3 separate regions of the Homo sapiens genome follow, and all the other regions are linked to region 3. Evidence: fine-mapped expression QTL. A gene starts in region 3. Each other region holds a variant in brackets. All regions are shown on one strand. Distances are from middle to middle.

Region 1 (4,230 bases), 33 kb after region 3:
CCGGGTTCAAGCAATTCTCCTGCCTCAGCCTCCCAAGGAGCTGGGACCACAGGTGTGTGCCACCACATCTGGCTAATTGTTTTTTATTTTTGGTAGAGAGAGGTCTCACTATGTTGTCAAGGCTGATGTCGAACTCCTGAGCTCAAGTGATCCTCCTGCCTCAGCCTCCCAAAGTGCTGGGATTACAGGCATGAGACACAGCGCCCGACTCACACACTTTTAAATTTTGTTCTCCGCCTGATATTTAGCTTTACGGCATAGAAGAAATGGTTTAACCCCCTTAGCGACATGGCAGCTCTATGCCCTTTATTGTTCTACTGCTAAAGGTCTTTGGGTTTCTGTTTCTCCTTTTTTTTTTCTTTTTAAGAAATGAAATTATTTTCTTTTACCTACGTAAAAAGAGTATACCTTGGCGGAGAGCGTGGCACGGCTCTACGCACCCCTCCCTGCCTGCCCAGCGCCTTCCACGCGGGAAACTCCCCGCCGGTCTCAGCTCCACCCCGCGCTGCCCCGCCGGCTCGGCAGCACTCGCAGCCGGCGATCCGCTGGTGCAGCTCCACGATCCGCCTGCCCATCCGCGCCGCCTCCGCGGCCTTCCTCTCCGCCTCGGCGCACAGCCTGGCCACCAGATCCTCCGCCTCCGCGCGCGGGCTGGGTGCTGGGGCCCGGGCGCCCTGCTCCTCCGCCTCCATCTCGCTCTTGATGGCGTCGAGCAGGCTCTGGATCTCCAGCAGCTCCCTGCGGGCCCGCTAGTGCGCCCGGGCACGCTCGCACTCCAGGGAGGCCAGGTCCTCGCCGCCCACGCGGGGCGCCGGGCCACCTGGGTCTTTGCGGGCTCTCGCCTGGTCCGTGTCCACGTCAGGCAGGAGAACAGGGTCTGGAGGTAGGGAACTTAAGGCAGATTCCTGCTGACTTCCTAAAGCTGAATCAAGGGAAAACACCAAGGTCTGGGGCAGAGAATCTGAGGCTGATTAACTCAAACTTCCCAAACCAAAAGGAAAAGCACCATCTCCCCATTGGGAGTAGTAAAGCATCAAAGGCTACTCTCCCTACAAGCCTCCTCCCAGATGGAAAGGGAGCGTGCCTTGGAGTGGCCAAGAGCCATGCAGGGACCGTCCCTTCATCCGCATAGGGCGCCAGTTCACCCCAGCCTTTAGCCACAAACCAAAACCTTCATCCACATAAGAGGTAGCTGGTAAGAACCTCAAATGAAGTACTTAAAGCCCAGAAAACTTTCTAACTGGCCCTTGAGCTGCTTGCTCGGGCCCGCTCCCACCCTGTGGGTGCTTTCTCGCTTTAAGAAATTGCTGCTTTCCCTGCTTCTGTTCCTGCGTTTCATTCCTTTGTTACTTTGTTTGTGCGTTTTGTTCAATGCTTTGTTCAAAAGGCCAAGGACCAGGACAACCCACTCAAGGCCCTCCTCACGGTAACGCAAGGCCACAGCGCCGCCGCCCCTTCCCGCCCCGGGCCAGCCGGGCACCCACCAGCCGTGCGCGGACACCTCGCTGTCACCCGCGACAAGTTCTTGAAGTTCCTTTTTAGTTTAGATAAAATTTTACTCTAAAACTTTCAGCCCTGAAACAGCGAAGGCCACACCCAAATGGCCTTCCCGCTGCCAGCCGCCGCGGGGCCTCCTCGAAGCTCCTTTCACGGCAGCTCCAGGTTGCCACGCGCCCACGGGGGT[T/C]TCGGGCGGGGTCCCGTATCGTGCAGGCGCCATGGCGCGCTCTCGTCCCCCTTCCCCCACGCGCCCTCGCCTGCGCGGGCTCTGGGGTGGAGTCTGAGAGGGATTCCAGGGTTGGGGTTTTAACACTCAGTTGCGAGTGATTTTTGCACCAGAAACGGAAGGTTGCACCGAATACCGTGACCCAGGGCCACGAAACCCACGGCTGCACCTCAAACCGTCCCCGCCTCGCCAGGGAACCGCTGGCTTGTCTCCGCCGGCCCGACACAGGCCAGGCGAGGTTTTTGGAAACAAAATTGTTACCAAACAGTGGCATTTCCCAGGACAGCTCTTTGAAGGTAGAATCTGTCCGCACGTCTCCGCCAGGGTTGGCTGCCCAGCAGGGGCTCGGTACATTTTGTTTACCCTAAAGAATGCTGTCTGGAGGGGGTAGAAGATATGTTAAGGCCGGGCACGGTGGCTCAGGCCTGTAATCCCAGCACTTTGGGACGCCGAGGTGGGCGGATCACCTGAAGTCCGGAGTTTGAGACTAGCCTGGCCAGCATGGTGAAACCCCGTCTCTACTAAACGTACACAAATTAGCTGGGGGTGGTGGCGCATGCCTGTAGTCCCAGCTACTCGGGAGGCTGAGGCAGGAGAATCGCTTGAACCCGGGAGGCGGAGGTTGCAGTGAGCTGAGATCCAGCCATTGCACTCCAGTCTGGGTGACTAGCCTGAGACTTTGTCTAAAAAAAAAAAAAAAAAGATACGTTTATATTCCTGGTCTGTGGCCCACAAACGGGCTAATGGTAAAGACTGGGGAGACCCTGCTTGCACAAGTGCCCCTGATTGGAAACTCAGTTCTCTAGGGGTGAAATGGAGCTGGTAGGCCCCTGTGACTGTGAGAGAAGTGAGAAAAAAAGGCATGACAGTGCATTGTACAGTTGCCAAAACACCAGGCAGAGGCAGGTGGCATCGCTACTATGACAGTCATTAGACTACACAGTGCATTCAGAGTCGTGTGGGAACTACATCCAATATTCGGACCCTGGCTTCACAACCTGCTGGCTGGGGGACTGAGGGCCAATCAGCCTGAGGGTAGCTCTCTTGGCCTGTGCCACCACCTGAACTTAGTGGAGTTGGGTACCATCACCTCTAGGGAGGTGTGGCAGGCAGAGTGACCCCCATAGAAGTCCACATCCTAATCCCTGGAACCTGTGATTGTGTTATAAATTATATGACATATTTTGTAATTACGAATATATCATATTACATGGCAAAATGGATTTTGCTCATGTAATTAAAGTTAAGGGTCTTAAGGAGAATGAATAGCCTGGATTATCCAGGTAGGCCCAGCCTAATCCTGAGTCCTTAAAGTGAAAAACGCTCCTAGGCTGGAGTCAGAGATAGAAAACGAAGGCAGAAGAGAGATTTGGCAGAAGAAATCCGTGCTATTCCAAGCAGGAGATGACTGGTCCTGCCTGTGCTGACTCTGAGATGTGGGGGGTTTGGACCCTAGCTTCACAGCTTTGTGGCTGGGGCGGGGCGGGGCGGGGGGTTGGACAATGAGGAGGATTTGACAAACCACTGCTGGTTTTGAGACACAGGTGGCCACATGAAAGGACAGGAGGGAGGCCTCCAGGAGCTAAATGTGGCCCCCAGCTGAAGCCCAGCCTGCAACCACAAGGAACTGGATTCTGCCAGCAACCTGAATGCACTTAGAAGCGGTTTCTCTCTGGAGCCTCCTGATAGGAGCCCAGCCAGCCAACACCTTGATTTTGGCCTTGTGAGACCTAGAGCAGAGAAACCTTCTAAGCCATTCGTGACTTCTGACCTTCAGGACTATGATGATAAATGTGTGTTATTTTGAGCTGTTAATTTGTGATAATTTGTTGTAGCAGCAGTTGAAAACTTGAAGCTTAGTCTGCAGAAAGTCTAAGGATGGATAAAAATGAATGAAGACCCTCAAAGCCGTGCCCCCACCTTATTATTCTCCTCTGGGTTCTCCTAACCCTAATTCTAACCCTATCTTCTTTTTTTTTTTTTATACTTTAAGTTCTAGGGTATGTGATCACAACTTGCAGGTTTGTTACATATGTATACACGTGCGATGTTGGTGTGCTGCACCCATTAACTCGTCATTTACATTAGGTATATCACCTAATGCTATCCCTCCCCTCTCCCCACCAACCCCACAATAGGCCCCAGTGTGTGATGTTCCCCTTCCTGTGTCCAAGTGTTCTCATTGTTCAATTCCCACCTATAAGTGAGAACATGCGGTGTTTGGTTTTTTGTCCTTGTGATAGTTTGTTGAGAATGATGGTTTCCAGTTTCATCCATGTCCCTACAAAGGACATGAACTCATCCTTTTTTATGGCTGCATAGTATTCCATGGTGTATATGTGCCACATTTTCTTAATCCAGTCTATCATTGATGGACATTTGGGTTGATTCCAAGTCTTTGCTGTTGTGAATAGTGCTGCAATAAACGTATGTGTGCATATGTCTTTATAGCAGCATGATTTATAATCCTTTGGGTATATACCCAGTAATGGGATTGCTGGGTCAAA
Region 2 (4,192 bases), 44 kb after region 3:
CTTGTATGAAATGTGCCTCAGAGGTTGCCCCCTCCAGGGGCTTTGCAGTTTCTGAAGCCTTCTTCATGCTGGTGCAGGTGCTGGGGCTCAGCACTTCCTTCAGGGGCTGAACAACCCCAAGTTTTAGCAGACTCACCTTGGAATTTCTTTGGCCATATATTTCCTTCAAAACCTTCGGATGACTTTGGGAGACTGAGGCAGGAGGATTGCTTGAGCCCAGGAGTCTGAGACCAGCCTGGGCAACGTAGGGAAACCGTATCTCTCTAAAAAATAAAAATAAAAAAATTAGCCAGGTGAGGTGGTACATGCCTGTGGTCCCAGCTACTGGAGAGGCTGAGGCAGGAGGATCGCTTGAGCCTGGGTGGTTAAGGCTGCAGTGAGCTGTGATCAGACCACTGCACTCCAGCTTGGGCAAAGCAAGACCCCATGTCTCAAAAAAACAAAAGGAAAACAAGAAATAAAAACACAAACAAGGGGGCCGGGCGCGGTGGTTCATGCCTGTAATCCCAGCACTTTGGGAGGCCGAGGCAGGCGGATCACGAGGTCAGGAGATCAAGACCATCTTGGCTAACATGGTGAAACCCCTTCTCTACTAAAATTACAAAAAATTAGCCGGGCGTGGTGGCGGCTGCCTGTAGTCCCAGCTACTCGGGAGGCTGAGGCAGGAGAACGGTGTGAACCCGGGAGGCAGAGCTTGCAGTGAGCCGAGATCATGCCACTGCACTCCAGCCTGGGCGACAATGCGAGACTCCATCTCAAAAAAAAAAAACAAACAAAAAAAACACCACAAACAAGACCCGCTCAGATGCTTCCTGCCTGTTTGCTGTCAGCCAGCCCCAATGTGCAGGCAGCCACAGCCCAAATCTTGTGAAGATGCCGGCATTTTCCTCACTGCGCTCTGTCCTTCCCCTGCTTTCCCAGTGGTGTCCCTGTGGAGCCAGTGTCCTTGACAGGAAGGTGACAGTCATCAGCTGGTGTTTGCCCACGTGACTGGCACTCACTTTCTGAGGAAGGACCTTTACTGAAGATGCTTGAGAAAGGTTTGGGGCCTCAGTCTCATTTCCCTGTAAGATGGCTTCTTTTGGAGCCATCTCCCGTAACTCTTTGGGTTTGGGATGCAGAACCCCTTTCCTGTGAGGCCCCAAATGACCAGCAGTGGTGCCTCTCCAAGCTCATTCATAGAAGCTACTGCAGGAAGCACAGTTGAGTGACAGTCTCCAACTGCCACATCTTTGCCTCCATAGCGATCACACCAAGGCCATGCCTGTCCTCCCTCAAAGAGACTAAATTCAGGACTAAACTTACTAGCCTGTCACTGCTGTTTCTCCCATTGATGAACCAAGGAGAACTCAGCCTAGGACAAGTTTCCAGTGATGTTCTCCACTCCTCTTCACCCCCAAACCTGTTCCTGGGCCTCCAGCATGTGCCTGACTTCTTGGAGGAGCTCTGCCCTCCCCCGACCTTACCCCTGAGAATAGTGCTATTTCATCCTCAGGCCTGTGAGGGAAAAGCCACTCATTTCTATATGTCCCTCGTGTGTCAATCAGAATTTGGGGGCAGTGTTCTCCCAGGCCATGTCCACACTCTACTTCTCCTCCCTC[T/G]TGTCCAAAATGGTGCTCCTTGGGAGCACTCCCTGGTCATCTGACTGTCCTCTCCCTCTTCTCACCTCTGTCATCCTCCAATCTCTTTTCACCCCATTGGAGTCCCGTCATTCACTGCAAACTTGGGCACCTGGCTCCTGGCCTTCCCCTCCACCCCAAGCCCTGCCATCGTCCTGAGCGAATTCCATGCTCACACAGCCACCAGCCCCACACCTGGGCCCTCATATCCAAGGAGCTCCTCCACCCTGCTTGGCCATTCACTCCCAAGAGTGACTTGGGGCTTGTTATTGTCTCAGACCTGGCCTACTTAATATCTCTGTGCCTCATTGATAAGACGAGACTAATTTTAATAATGGCATCTGCCCCACTGAGGGGTCGTGAAAGGCTTTTGAGGAATTGTAGGTAACTGGCACATAGTAAATGCTTCACAGGTGTTAAAACAAGAATTGATCTGAGGCCCCAGAAGCACGTAGCTCGCAGGATGTCATCCACAGATACATTTTATTTGACAATCAGAGTTTTTAATATGATAAATTGCTTTCCAATATCAGCCCTCCTATTTTCTGGCCACATCCCATCCTCCAGGTGACACTTTCACTGTAGTCACTAACATGCTGGGATCTCCATTCACTTTACCAGCTACTTTCGCCTATTGCTCTCCTGCTCTTCACCTCCATACTTCCCCACTCAGAGTACATCATGTATTGTTGCAGTGATGTCCTTGTCAAAACCCTAAGCTCTTTTTTTCTTTTTTCACTCCTCTCTGGCAAAAATGCAGTCCTGATGAACGCAGTATCTGCCCCAGGCAGTGGGCAAGTGCTGTAAGGAACCATCACCAACAAGGCTACAGGGAAGCCCAGGGCTTGGGGAAAATCTAGTTTCAGCTGTTAAGAGTTGGTAAAGAAATGTTCTTTGAAGAGGCAAAGAATAATATGGATTAATTTGGGAATAATGGAATGCAGGATTTTGTGAACCATGGTATAGAGTTTGAAGGAGGAAGCAATGGGGATATAAACCAGTAAATAGGTACCACAGAACATTATGGAAATCAGAGACGGGGAAAAGAGAATTGACTCAGAGAGGGTCTAACATATGCTGGGCTGTGTATTAGTCTGTTCTCATGCTGCTATGAAGAAATACCCGAGACTGATAATTTATAAAGGAAAGAGGTTTAATTGACTCCCAGTTCCACATGGCTGGGGAGGCCTCAGGAAACTTACAATCATGGCAGAAGGGGAAGCAAACCTGTCCTTCTTCGTATGGCGGCAGGAAGGAGAAGTGCAGAGCAAAGGGGAAAAAGCCCCTTGTAAAACCATCAGATCTCGTGGAAACTCACTATCACAAGAACAGTATGGGGGTAACCACCCCATGATTCAGTGACCTCCCACCGGGTCACTCCCAGGACAAGATGAGATTTGGGTGGGGACACAGCCAAACCATATCAGGCAGTGACTGAAGCAGGCACTGGATGGATTTTGTAGATTTACCTGGCCACAGTGTTAACCAGGGTAATAAATCCCCATTTATCTCTGGAAGATGGTAGAAACTCAAGCCACTCCATGTTTACCTGCTGCCTGGAAGGGGGAGAATGGCCAGGAGTAGGAGTTTGAACTAGCGCTTTCTTTCACCTTGAAGTCATTAGAAGGCAGAGGAAAGTCAAGAGCTCCACGTGAAAGCCAGAGACAGAAGATAACCTGTTGGACAATGCCTGGGCTAGTGGGAGGGATGTGATCAACGGGCCTCAGGTAGAAGGGAGAACAACCCTTTCATCAAAACACAAGGAATGGAAGAAATAATGAATATCTGTATCAGTCATCTTAGTCTAAGTTGTTATTGTAACAAACAATCCCCAAATCTCAGTGGCTTAAAACAACTAAGGTTTTTCCTTGTTTGTGGTATATACTCATCATAGATTGGTAGGGAACTGTGGTCATTAAGCTCAGCCACCATCTGGAATGTTGCTGGTTCCTGTGCCAGAGGGAAGAGACAGCTCTGCAGGGTGTTGCTTTGGAGGTTCTGGGTTGGATGCAACAGATGTAAGTTTCCTTTGTAGCTCATCGGCCAGAATTAATCACGTGGGCCCACCCAACCCCAAGGGGGCCAGAAAGTGCCATCTTACTCTGTGCCTAGAAGGCAGAGAATTGGAATTTATTTGGTGAACAGCACTAATGACTTCTACATTTTAACCCAGAAAAGCTTCATTGCTCTCTGAGGTTATTTCCAGCTCTGCCATCCTGTAATACCAGGACTTTGGGAGGCCAAGGCAGGTGGATCACTTGAGGCCAGGAATTCAAGACCAGCCTGGCCAACATAGTGAAACCCTGTCTCTACTAAAAATGCCAAAATTAGCAGGGCATGGTGGCACCCACATGTAACCCCAGCTACGCGGGAGGCTGAGGCAGGAGAATTGCTTGAGCCCTGGGAGGCAGAAGTTGCAGTGAGCCAAGATCATGCCACTACACTCCAGCCTGGGCAACAGAGTTAGACCCTGTCTCAATAAATAAATAAACAAATAAATAAATATGGCAACTCCAGCCAGAAAATTTAATGACTGTACAGCCACGTAAGACTGTCTCTCAGAATGCTTCTTA
Region 3 (4,188 bases):
CACGGGGCTGTGGCTCAACATAGAAAAACCTTGGTGCACGATGGCAGCAGCAGGTCTCACAAGAGCCGGCTTTCTCAGAACACACTGCCTCTGCCCAGGTGTCCTGCAGTGGAGGCTCAGACTGGCCCCACTGGTGACCCCTTGGGGAGCAGGGACAGGTCCATTCTGCTCACTCCTGAGCTGGGCAGTTCCCTCTTGGGATAAGGTCGCACAGCACAGGCCACCATCATACCACCCCAGCCAGAGAAGTGGGAGAGAGAAGGAGGCTCCCTACCCCAGAGGCAGTGCTCCTCAGGAAGGGCATTCACTGCGTTATATAGATATATATATACACACACACACACACACATATATATACACATATATACACATATATGTATACACACATATATACACACACACATATATACACACACACATATGTATATACACACACATATATATATAGATATACACACACATATATTTTTTGTTTGTTTGTTTGTTTGTTTGCGATGGAGTCTCACTCTGTTGCCCAGGCTGGAGTGCAGTGGTGTGATCTCGGCTCACTGCAACTTCCACTTCCCGGTTTCAAGTGATTCTCCAGCCTCAGCCTCCCGAGTAGCTGGGACTACAGGCATGTACCACCACACCAGGCTAATTTTTTGGGGGTTTCACCATGTTGGCCAGTCCGGTCATCACTTTGTTTTAAAATTTTTATTTATTTATTTATTTTTATTTATTTTTTGAGACGGAGTCTCGCTCTATCACCCAGGCTGGAGTGCAGTGGCACGATCTTGGCTCACTGCAACCCCTGCCTCCTGGTTCAAGTGATTCTCCTGCTTCAGCCTCCTGAGTAGCTGGGATTATAGGCATGCACCACCTTGTCTAGCTAATTTTTGTATTTTTAGTAAAGATGGGGTTTTACCATGTTGGCCAGGCTGGTCTTGAACTCCTAACCTCAAGTGATCTGCCCACCTCGGCCTCCCAAAGTGCTGGAATTACAGGCATGAGCCACCGTGCCTGGCCCCATTTATTTACTTTTAGAGACAGTGTCTTGCTTTCTCACCCAGGGTGGAGTGCAGTGGCTCAATCACAGCTCACTATAGCCTCCAACTCCTGGGCTTAAGTGATCCTCTCACCTCAGCCTCTCCAGTAGCTGGGACTACAGGGGCGCTCCACCATGCCCGACTATTCACTTTAATCTTTCACCGCTGTGGGAGGAAGGATCAGGACATCCATCGGGTGGAAACTGCTGCACTCCCCCACCCGTTCAGGCCACTGGAGTGTCACCAAACCACCAGGGCTGCCCCTGCTGGAGTAGCTCACCTGGGTAACTCTGAGGACAAGCCCCCTTGGAGACTCTTCTCAGGAGGGAGGTGGCATTTTCCAAGAAAGGGTTCAACACAGACCTCTGAGTCAGAGGACCAGTTAAAGAGAAAATTATTCTGACTTTATTCAGGAATGTTGCTGTAGGGGTCGTGATTATTGCCATGCGGGGAGTTGCCCTTGAGGCAGCTGGGAGTGGCTCACGCCTGTAATCCCAGCACTTTGGGAGGCCAAGGCAGGTGGATCACTTCAGATCAGGAGTTCGAGACCAGCCTGGCCAACATGCAAAACCCTGTCTCTACTAAAAGTACAAAAATTAGCCAGGCATGGTGGCGCGTGCCTGTAATCCCAGCTACTCGGGAGGCTGAGGCAGGAGAATCGTTTAAGCCTGGGAGGTGGAGGTTGCAGTGAGCTGAGATCGCACCACTGCACTCCATCCTGGGCGACAGCCAGACTCTGTCTCAAAAAAAAAAAAAAAAAAAGAGGCCAGATGAAGAGCTCGAACCACGAGCTTCTACATGTTAACCAGGGTAAAGAGCAACCGCTGACAGGAAGGGGCCCAGCAGTCAACCCCCGGGAAGGCCAGGATGTGGCCTTGTTTCGGCAAGGCCGCCCTATCACCACGGAGATGGGCAGGCAGGAGACATCCCCAGTCAGTCGGGCCCAGGTGGGGATCAGGAGGTTTCAGGAAAACACAAGCTATGCAGTGGGGCAGGTGAGGCTTGGCCTGCCCAGCCTGTCCTGAGTGTCATGGGAACAGCTCTGGAAGTGACTCCTCTGTCCTCTGGAATCTGGATCAGATGGGGCCTTCTCCAGACATCTGTGCTCAGCAGATGCGACAGACGGCCCCTCGAGTGTAGCCCAGGATCCAGCACCGGCCCAAGCAGGTGGGAGCTGTAAGTTGATCCAAGCTCTCCAGTCCCTGTGCTGGGCTGGGGGATGCACGATGAACGAGGCTGGGATCCTGGTGTCAGGGAGTACCAGCCACAGAGGGCGCCATGTGCATGGAGGAGGTGGCAAGGAAGAGGTGACTGGGAAGGGGAGAAGCAGAGAGGCCAGGAGGAGGGCGGGGCCTGTGCTGGGGGGTGGAGGAACTCATGCCCGGGAAGGGCATGGGGAGAGTGAAGTGGGAGTGGAGTGGGAGGCAGGCTTGGAGGAGTCGGTGCCTTGGGATGTGGGACAGTGAGGAACAAGGCACAAACAACCAGTCAGTGCTCTGGGGAATCAAGAAGTTGGGATGGGCAGCGGGGGTCCAGGGTGGAGATGGGCTGGAGGGGGAGGAGGGCACCAACCAGGGAAGGCCCCTCAGGGGCTTGATCCTGTAGTTCTGGGCCTCGCAGAGCCAGCCACACGTCCGAGCTCCTAGGTGATTTTAAGAACTAGCTCTTGCTGGGCCGCACCCAGGCAGAGCTGCCCGTTCAGTGGCTGGGCTGGCCCAGCACCTCCCAGGTGATCCTGTTGTGCCAGGTCAATGGTCTGGAGAGTTATCAGCCACAAGAGGCACCGTCAGGTTTGCCCTTTTGAGGCCCACATGGCCGCTGGTGTGAGACGCGGATGTGCACGGTGAGGCAGTGAGGGGCTGCAGGGTGAGGAGCCCCCAGCCATGTGCGGTTCAGGGTCCCCGCAGCACTCGCCCAAGGACACTGGGAGCTGGCGGAGGCCTGGGCAGGAGCAGGAAACTGAAGGAGGAGGAGGGGCCTCACTCATCACCTGATGAGATCTCCACACTTTGCAGAAGGGGAAACCGAGGCTCACAGCGAGGAACTTGGTCAACAAGCCCAGGCCCCTCCACCCTGCCCGCGTTTCCTGCACTGCACTGGATCAAACCGGTTTGATCCTTGATAATGCCTCCGACAAATATTTGATGAGGGAGGAGGCTGAGAGAGGTGAGGAAATCAGTTTCTCAGGGACAGGCTGGACACAGGGGTCATGCACCGGGTAGCTGTGAGGGCAGGGGTGGCGTCTCACCTCAGGGACACAGCTCCTGGGGAGGGCGGCAGAGACCCTGACAGTCTCGCCTCGCAGGCGTCTTTCTCCAGGCTAGAAACCAATGACTCATCTCTCAGGCTCTCTAGCAAACAGCGGGGCCCACACACCACAGTTGTGGTCGAATGTTTCCCTGAGGGCTACGGAGCCTGGTCTTGCCGAATACAAAGAGGAGGCTCTCAGCCGTCTGCTTTCTTCCTGCAGGAATCCTGGGCGTGATCTCCCTCGGCTACGTGCAGCCACGTGGAGACGCTGTGGGGATTCTTGTTGCTGGTGACTGAGTATTCCCAACCGGTAGTATTTGTTTTTTAGGGGCTGTGGAACAAATCACCACAAACTGGAGGGCCGAAAACACCAGCAATGGGCTCCCTCTTGGTTCTGGAGCCGAGAAGGCAGAAATGAAGGCGTCATCAGGGTTGCTCCTTCTGGGGCCTCAGAGCAGGACTCTGTTCCCTGCCCGTCCCCAGCTCCGGTGGTTGGCGGCCTTCCTCCGCCTGTGGCCCTGCACTCCAATCGCTGCCTCTGTTGTCACTTGGCCCCCCATGTGCCTCTGTGTCTCAGAAGGACACAAGTCATATTGAATTAAGGACCCTCCCTACCCCAGCATGACCCCGTTTTAACTTAGAACTTTCACAATGATCTGATTTGCAAAGAAGGCTGGATTCTGAGGTCCTGGGAAGGACATGAATTTTGGGGGATGCTGTTCACCTCAGTACACCGGTGCAGAGTTCGGTGACACCGCCAAGTTGCTTGACGGTGAGCAGCCTGGCATTGTAGAAAGGCAGAGGTTGACTTTAGTTTGGTCCCTGGCTTTGTCCTTTATTTGTTCTGTGACACCTTGGACAAGTTTTGTGACCCGAGTGTCAGTTTCCTAGGAACCAGTGACAATGATCA

The links.
Region 1: its variant is fine-mapped to the expression of LINC02481 in putamen (GTEx, PIP 0.95).
Region 2: its variant is fine-mapped to the expression of LINC02481 in nucleus accumbens (GTEx, PIP 0.99).

What each region holds. Positions count from the first base shown.
Region 1 is chr4:6,655,274-6,659,503 of GRCh38, reverse strand. It overlaps the pseudogene LOC124900840. Among named protein-coding and RNA genes, the nearest start is that of LINC02482, 16 kb to the left of the region's middle. RefSeq lists a silencer at 561-720. The variant T/C (reference allele first, on the strand shown) is at 1,685.
Region 2 is chr4:6,644,797-6,648,988 of GRCh38, reverse strand. No RefSeq gene overlaps it. Among named protein-coding and RNA genes, the nearest start is that of MRFAP1, 6.2 kb to the right of the region's middle. The variant T/G (reference allele first, on the strand shown) is at 1,602.
Region 3 is chr4:6,688,315-6,692,502 of GRCh38, reverse strand. LINC02481 (long intergenic non-protein coding RNA 2481) reads left to right here and starts at 1,984. Exons shown (of 3, transcript NR_147207.1): 1 at 1,984-2,204; 2 at 3,044-3,194; 3 at 3,607-4,188. RefSeq lists enhancers at 2,966-3,713, 2,715-3,914.